Linked DNA regions of Homo sapiens: all the other regions are linked to region 1. Evidence: fine-mapped expression QTL. A gene starts in region 1. Each other region holds a variant in brackets. All regions are shown on one strand. Distances are from middle to middle. Region 1 holds the start of HUS1 (HUS1 checkpoint clamp component). Region 2 overlaps PKD1L1 (polycystin 1 like 1, transient receptor potential channel interacting). Region 3 has its middle 8.5 kb from the start of PKD1L1.

What was found.
Region 2: its variant is fine-mapped to the expression of HUS1 in lung (GTEx, PIP above 0.99).
Region 3: its variant is fine-mapped to the expression of HUS1 in whole blood (INTERVAL, PIP 0.98).

The regions. Positions count from the first base shown.
Region 1 is chr7:47,978,453-47,981,215 of GRCh38, reverse strand. It overlaps HUS1 (HUS1 checkpoint clamp component), which reads left to right and starts at 1,601. Exons shown (of 8, transcript NM_004507.4): 1 at 1,601-1,748; 2 at 2,400-2,527; 3 at 2,623-2,763. The coding sequence starts at 1,697. RefSeq lists an enhancer at 1,531-1,820 and silencers at 1,891-1,950, 2,031-2,080.
Region 2 is chr7:47,940,512-47,943,274 of GRCh38, reverse strand. The region is part of intron 2 of PKD1L1 (polycystin 1 like 1, transient receptor potential channel interacting); the gene reads left to right. Among named protein-coding and RNA genes, the nearest start is that of PKD1L1, 6.6 kb to the left of the region's middle. RefSeq lists a silencer at 789-1,083 and enhancers at 871-2,070, 1,463-2,086. The variant A/G (reference allele first, on the strand shown) is at 1,637.
Region 3 is chr7:47,955,588-47,958,350 of GRCh38, reverse strand. It overlaps a transcript of PKD1L1 not described here. Among named protein-coding and RNA genes, the nearest start is that of PKD1L1, 8.5 kb to the right of the region's middle. The variant A/G (reference allele first, on the strand shown) is at 1,435.

The DNA of each region.
Region 1 (2,763 bases):
AAACTGCAATTTTTGTATTTTGCACCTTTTTATTATTATTACACTTTAAGTTCTAGGGTACATGTGCACAACGTGCAGATTTGTTACATAGGTATGCATGTGCCATGTTGGTGTGCTGCACCCATCAACTCATCATTTACATTAGGTATTTCTCCTAACGCTATCCCTCCCCCAGGCCTCCACCCCCCAACAGGCCCCAGTGTGTGATATTCCCCTCCCTGTGTCCATGTGTTCTCATTGTTCAACTCCCACTTATGAGTGAGAACATGCGGTGTTTGGTTTTCTGTCCTTGTGATATTTTGCTGAGAATGATGGTTTCCAGCTTCATCCATGTCCCTGCAAAGGACATGAACTCATCCTTTTTTATGGCTGCATAGTATTCCATGGTGTATATGTGCCACATTTTCCTTATCCAGTCTATTATTGATGGACATTTGGGATGGTTCCAAGTCTTTGCTATTGTGAATAGTGCCACAATAAACATATGTGTGCATGTGTCTTTGAAAATTATCTGGGCCTGGCGCGGTGGCTCACGCCTATAATCCCAGCACTTTGGGAGGCCGAGGTGGGCAGATCACCTGAGGTCAGGAGTTCGAGACCAGCCTGGCCAACATGGCGAAACCCCGTCTCTACTAATAATACAAAAATTAGCCGGGCATGGTAGCTTGTGCCTGTAATCCCAACTACTTGGGAAGCTGAGGCAGGAGAATCCCTCGAACCCGGGAGGTGGAGGTTGCAGTGGGCCAAGATCACGCCATTGCACTCCAGCCAGGGCGACAGAGCCAGACTCCGTCTCAAAATCATCATCATCATCATCTGCATTATCATTATCTTGATTCTATGTGTCAAGTTAAAGACAAGGTTCTAGTCTATTTGCAAAGGACATTAAAAATAACAATTGTTAACACAGATAATCTTTAGTCTTTGAAAAACCAAATTAGATACAATTGTTGCTTCATTTCCCCCTTTAAAATTTTTCCTTTAAAAAAAATCCTAATGACATTATTTATGCTAATAAGAATTTTATCGGATGTAATAAAGTTCGTCTTGAGGCAAACTGCAGAATTATCACTTAACGTCAGTGTTCTTTAAGCTTCCCGACTTTACCAACTAGCCAGTAATATGTTCAATTTTTTTAGAAGTCATTTGAAACAATTTTCAGAACCTTAATCCACCAAGATGCTTCAATACCAAAGTACCAGTACCGTCATCTGAGGCTGGAGGGTTTAAAGCTGCTCTACCTTAGGTATATTTAAGATAATATTGTTTAACCTTTATAAACGATTAATTTTATTTGGATATTTTAAAATAACACTTGAAATAGGTGTCACAAAATTCTTTCAAAACGTGAATTCTCAGAACAACCTCCCCGAATCTGGGGCTTGAAGCCTCCGCCTCACTAAAAGTAGATCCCACCATTACCCGGCAGCGCGGAGGCATACCCGGAGACTGGGACCCCCACCTCCCCCGGGGCGTGACCTGTGATCCTTGACCCGTGACCCCACCTCCTCTAGGGCGTGACCCCCTAGCCCCACCTCCTCCGGGGCGTGGCCCGGAGATAACCCTGGTAAGAGTCGCGTAGCCCGAGCCGGGCGGAACCACTGTTCGCGCTGCCGTGTTTCCGGGCGGGGACACTCAGGGCGCGACGCTTTTCTGTTACCCACAGAGGCCCGCCGCGGCTGCGCCATCCGCGGCCATGAAGTTTCGGGCCAAGATCGTGGACGGGGCCTGTCTGAACCACTTCACACGTGAGCAGGGAGGCCGGAGAGGAGCGAGGGAGGAACGGAAGGAAGCAGTGAGCGCGCGGTGGGGACCGCGCAGGAGGATCAGAACGGGGATGGGCGCCGGAAGGGGCCGCGGGAGGATGGGGCCGGGATGGGGGTGCTGGTGTAGGCCGCGGGAGGGTGGGGCCGGGAGGGCGCGGGGCGGGTCGGAGGGCACTTGTGGGGATGAAGGCGGCTTTCAAGGGACGTTTCTGAAACTTGATTCCGATCACGTGGCTTTAAAAAAAAGCGGCCACTGCTCCCATAGACGGCTTTATCAGGCATTGACATACCTTCAAGGCCCCATTCGTCCCTCCACCCTGACAGTGCCTAACCTTGCATTTAACTGTGTATTGCAGTACCTAGTAGTCAATAAATCCATGTTGAATGAATGAATGACTGGTAGGTGCCTGTTTTCTTATTTGAACACTGATGATGTGTGCTGTACATCTCCCCTAGTTTGTTGGGAGAATTGCGTGACATCAGGGGTATTAAAGTACTTTCCAGTGTGATACCAACGTTAAGTGGTTATTTTTCCACCGAGAAGTTGATGAACAAGAAATTCTGCAAAATAAGTTGGTCTCTAGGATACATAATGTGCATTTTAGTAATTCCTTATTTTAACCCCTGCTTTAGGAATCAGTAACATGATAGCCAAGCTTGCCAAAACCTGCACCCTCCGCATCAGCCCTGATAAGCTTAACTTCATCCTTTGTGACAAGCTGGCTAATGGAGGAGTGAGCATGTGGTGTGAGCTGGAACAGGTGAGCAAAAGCTTCTGAGAGGCCTGCACACTCTGCAGATTGTCACTGGAAAGATCACATATACCCTCCCTCATCCCTCATTTTTTTTCCCTTAGGAGAACTTCTTCAACGAATTTCAAATGGAGGGTGTCTCTGCAGAAAACAATGAGATTTATTTAGAGCTAACATCGGAAAACTTATCTCGAGCCTTGAAGACTGCCCAGAATGCCAGGGCTTTGAAAATCAAACTGACTAAT
Region 2 (2,763 bases), 38 kb after region 1:
GTCAGAGTGATCTTAAACCTGCTGTTTTGCAAGTGCCTCTAACTTAAATAGTCCACATGCCAGGATGGTACACACACATATATATATATATATATATATATATATATATATTTTTTTTTTTTTTTTTTTGAGACGGAGTCTCACTCTGTCACCCAGGCTGGAGTGCAGTGGCATGATCTTGGCTCACTGCAAGCTCTGCCTCCTGGGTTCACGCCATTCTCCTGCCTCAGCCTCCTGAGTAGCTGGGACTACAGGCGTCCGCCACCACGCCCAGCTAATTTTTTGTATTTTTGGTAGAGACAGGGTTTCACCGTGTTAGCCAGGATGGTCTCCATCTCCTGACCTCGTGATCTGCCCACCTCGGCCTTCCAAAGTGCTGGGATTACAGGCATGAGCCACGGCGCCTGGCCAGGATGGTATATTTTTAACTCCTTCACTGGGCCCCACCCCTGACTTTCTGCTTTAGGAGGTCTGGGGTGAGGCTGAGATCTGGGGGCCACACTTCGAGAACAACCAAGACTGTAAGTGGGGCCTCCCAGAGCCCAATGAAGGGAATACTTAGGTTACAGGAGGTGTCTGCATGGCCACAGGTGTGGGGTTTTCCTCCTCGTCCTTAACACAGAGAGTATCTCTGTTTTTAATTTTTAAAATGAAAATTCTAAAGTGTTGCCTGAAACGTAATTGCCAGGATTCCTTTAAGTAGAAGGAATTTTTGAGTTTTCAACTTAGGCTACACATTTGGTAGACCTGAGAAACGGATTTTTAAAATTAAATTTAAAAAAATTTTTTTAATTTCTAAAGAGACGGATTTAAATGGAGTGGGGGGGCGGGGGCGCGGGGCAGGAGGCGGGTGTGTGCCTGGCATCAATGTTGAAACAATGCAACGCCAATTCTTTTGCAATTCTTATGTTAAGATCATGTGGAATTGTTACCTAAATGCCAGGGGTTTGCCTGACATCCTGCTGCTGCTGCTTACGTACAGAGCATAATCATCATGAAGACTGCGAGGATTGCCAGGGAAGAAAGCTTTATCAGGTGCTGCAGATGAGGAGAAGGGAGATAAAGTCTCAAATATATCTCCCCATCTGACTAAAACTTGGGGGTTTATATAGCAGGGAAGACGAGAAAACAAAATTAGAGAGGGGTGAGGAAGCAATCTGAGGAATGAGGGGCCTGGCTGGATGCAGGGATCTGGTGGGTCCCTTTCCTGGGTTGGTTTCCTGAGGGAAGAACTCAGATGAGATGGATGTTAAGTTTCAGGTTTTAAGACTAGGAGAGTCAGTTTCCATGTTTATTCAAAAAACCTATAAATATCACTTCTGTGGGACAATTAAGCCAATTTCAGGATTAGTTTCACTCACTTAGTTTATTTCTCCTTTTGTGACATACTTTATTCAATTTTGCAATTTTATGTACTTTTTATGATTTTTTATTTATTTCTTTCTGTTCAGGGGTATATCCACTTTTTTTTCCAGATAATTTGAGCACAGTGACTTTGATGACTAATTGGTTTCAGAGAAATATGAGTCACTTGACTATTCTAGCTTATTCCGAAACATTTTCTAAATATTTCTTCCTCTCGGATGTGTCCAGTTCAGGAAATTACTTCATACCTCAGTTGGTGCATCCAGCCTGC[A/G]TGGGTGCTCAATGGCACTCGATGGCATTTGTAGCACGTCACATATTAGGCCAGGAACACGGCCTTTGATTTTTCCTCAGCTTTTGTTATCACAAGATATTAATACACTGGACTCTTGACAGTAAATAGTGACTTTGACTCACAATGTTAAAACTGGATTTGATATTGTCCTAGGCTAAACTTGAGAGTGTCCTGGGAGGCTAGGGGCAAGCTGACTGCCAGCACCACTGCTGGGGTGCAGGGATTGGAAGCCACATCCCCTGTGAGGATGGCCCAGCCCTGGCCTGGAGCTCCTGGAGAACCTGCTGCTCTCGGCGGCCTGCAGGCCTTTGGGTTCCTTTTAGCCTGAGCAAAGCTGGCCAGAATAACAGACTGGGGTTAAGAGAGCCCAGGCAGAAACAGGTTTCCTTACAGGGACTCGGGTCTGACAGAAAAGCAGCAGGGTGCTCCAGTCCCCTCTTCACCCGCCACCCCCACTTCCTTCCCCTCCTACCTGGGGATGAGAGGGGTGGGGGCTTCAGGGAAAGCAGCTCTTGCACCCAAGGCAGTCGCCTGGCTTCTTGCTGAGAGTGGCTCTGTGCAGGGCCAGGTCTAGCAGAAATATTTTCTTTTAACTTTTATTATGGACATTTTCAAACATCTGCATGAGTAGAGAGAATGGCATCACAAACACTCAAGGACCTGTCATCGCTGGCAACAGTTGTCAGCTGTGCGCAGATCCTATTCCAGATGCTCTCACAGACATGGGATGTGGCAGGGCCCTCAGCCTCCCAGCCGGGTGGACACTGGCTCCGCTCACTGCCCGGCCTTCAGCCCTCAGAGATGGGAGGAGTGAACGTCAGCCAGGTCCGTGCTACCATCAGGGCCAGATTGCCTGGGTGGGAACATCCTGCTTATAAACTTTGGAGTGTCTTTAATGGTCTTCCTGTTTGTCCAACAGCTCCCCAACCACTCCTTCCGACTGTGGTGTTGCCCCCTCTACTACACACCCCTGAGCAGGACCTTTGACCCTCATTATTTTATGACCAGACCACTGGGTGTTTCTGGAACAGGCATTCATTATCAGCGTGGCTGGTGGTTGTGCGTTTCCTCATATTGCTTAGTGTGGGCTACACCTAAGACATTGT
Region 3 (2,763 bases), 23 kb after region 1:
ACTGTACTTTCTTTTCAATAAATGTGTGTTCTTGGTGCCTTTGTTGAATATCAGTTGGCTGTAAATGTGTGGATTTATTCCTGGGTTCTCTGTTCCATTGATCTATCTGTTTTTATACCAGTACCATGCTGTTTTTATAACTTTAGTTTTATGGCATATTTTGAAGTCAGGTATTATGATGCCTCCAGCTTTGTTCTTTTTGCTCAAGATTGCTTTGGCTATTCAAGGTCTTTTGTGGTTACATACGAATTTTAGGATTTTTTTTTCTATCTGTGAAGAATGTCATTGGTATTTTGATAGGAATTGCACTGAATCTGCAGATTGCTTTGGACGGTATGAACATTTAAGAAATAATTCTTTCAATCCATGAACACAGGATAACTTTCCATTTATTTGTGTCTTCAGTTTCTTTCATCAGTGTTTTATAGTTTTCATCCTAGAGATTTTTCACCATGGTTAAGTTTATTTCTAGATATATATATATATATTTTTTTTTAATTGTATTGTAAATGGGATTTTCTTGATTTCTTTTTCATATAGTTCACCATTAATGTATAGAAATGATACTGGTTTATGGCTGTAATCCCAGCACTTTGGGAGGCCAAGGCAGGTGAGTTGCTTGAGCTCGCGAGTTTGCCACCAGCCTGAGCAACATGGCAAAACCCTTTCTCTACAAAAAATACAAAAGTTAGCCAGGTGTGGTGGTCCCAACTACTTGGGAGGCTGAGGTGGGAGGATTGGTTGAGCCCAGGGAGTTGAGGCTGCAGTGAGCTGTGATTGCAACACTGCACTTCAGCGTGGGCAACAGAGTGAGATCTTGTCTCAAAAAAAAGAAATAATACTAGTTTTTGTTTGTAGATTTTGTATCCTGAAACTTTACTGAATGTTTTTTAGTTCGAACAGTTTTTTTGGTGGAGTCTTTAGGATTTTCTCTACTTATGATCGTGTCATCTGTAAACAGAGACAGTTAACTTCCTCCTTTCCGATTTAGATGCCTTTTCTTTCTCTTGCCTAATTGCCTAATTACAGCATGTTCCTATTCTGTAAATGTTCAATGAACTAGAGAATGATTCTTGGGTAGTTAATATTGTCAATGTTGATGAACTCTTTTCCTTCGCTGAAAGCAGCTACTTTGTTGGAGGTTTCAATTCTGCGTGGCAATTTGCAGCATTTCTAGTGGTACTGCTCCACATTTTACAGCTTTATGAAGAAGGTGTTTACTTTTTTTGAAATTACCTTGAGACATTTCAAACTGTGCAGAAGATATATGCACAAAAGCAAATGTCTTGCAGTTTGCTATAGCCACTTATACATCATCTGGCTCTTGAATAGCTTTAATTCAGCTGTTGAATCTCACTTGAATTTGAGCAAAACCTTCATCTTTATATGTATCTGGACAAATTACTTCAATTGCTTGACAGTAATGACCAATCA[A/G]TTTATTTAAAATAGTATCATTTAGTAGGACAGTGTTTTTCTCTGGTTTGAGCAACGAATTCAACCAGTCCTCTGGGTTGATCATCATCATCATCATCATTTGGTTATCAGTTCCTGAGTTATTTTTACCAGGGAGTTTTATACCTTTAGACAGCTATTTTGAATTATCTCAGGAATGTCATATATCTCTGCCTCTTTAGAGTCAGTCACTGGCACTTTGTCTGTTTGGTGACATCATGTTTCCCTGACTGTTCTTCATCTTTGTAGTTATACATTGATATCTGTGCATTGAATATGTAGGTATTTATAAACAGTCTTTGCAATCTGGCTTTGTCTGTGATTGTCCTTGTATAGTAGGTCTGTCCAGAAATTGTAAGCATACTGTCTTTTTTGGTCTTTAAGCCCGTGAACGCTACAGCCCGTGTAGTGCCAAATGGTGCCCTAAGCCCAGGTTCCCTGCAGTCCACTCTGTGATTTGTTTGTTGACTGCTGTGAGCCCCACCCCCATTCTTTGTTTCTAATTTACACCTAGCAGGCTAACCCTGCTGGCACCTGCAGTGCTTCCAGGGGGAAAGGACCATAGTGTGCCCCTGTGAAGAGTCTCAGAATGGTGCGGAAGGTGAATGCCCACCTCCCGCTCTCTTTTCCCACTGTAGAAACTGATTCCAGAGAAATTCTCCAAGTGCGGTGCTATGTGGGCTTGCGGGAGAGGTGTTATGATCAAACAGAACCATTCTCTTTACCCTCTGTTCATGGTTTTTCTTGGCTCTGTGGTCCAGTGAGTTGTCACAGCTTCACTCCCAATTTCTGGGATATTCAGGGCAATAATCTTGCCACTGGGTATTTGCTAGTTGAAATTATGTGGTAGGGAGAGAAGCCAGTAAGCTTCACTTCTCCGTTTGGCTGATGTCACTCTCGAATTCTGTACTTTCATACGGATTGTAATAGGGAGGGTCTAAAAGGAAGCTTCAGTTTTGGATTTTTAGAGCTTCTTCTAAGTACAATTGTTGAATCAAGAGGTAAAAATGGTATGTTATAACTGGAAATACGCTGAGATTAAAAAGGAGATAAATTAGCCCCATTGGGACAGTGCTATTGGGAATGTGAATTGATACCACTTTCCTGGAGTCTAGTTTAGTATTTATTTTATATGTAATGCCTGAAAAGATGTGTGTCTCCTTTGACTCAATACTTATAGGAATTTACACAAAGGTTATAATCAAAGATTATAGAACTGTTATACTGGAAAAACACGAAATATTCTAATTATGAATTAATTGGGGATTGGTTAAATAAACTATGGTTTGATATGCTCTAAAAATAATGTTA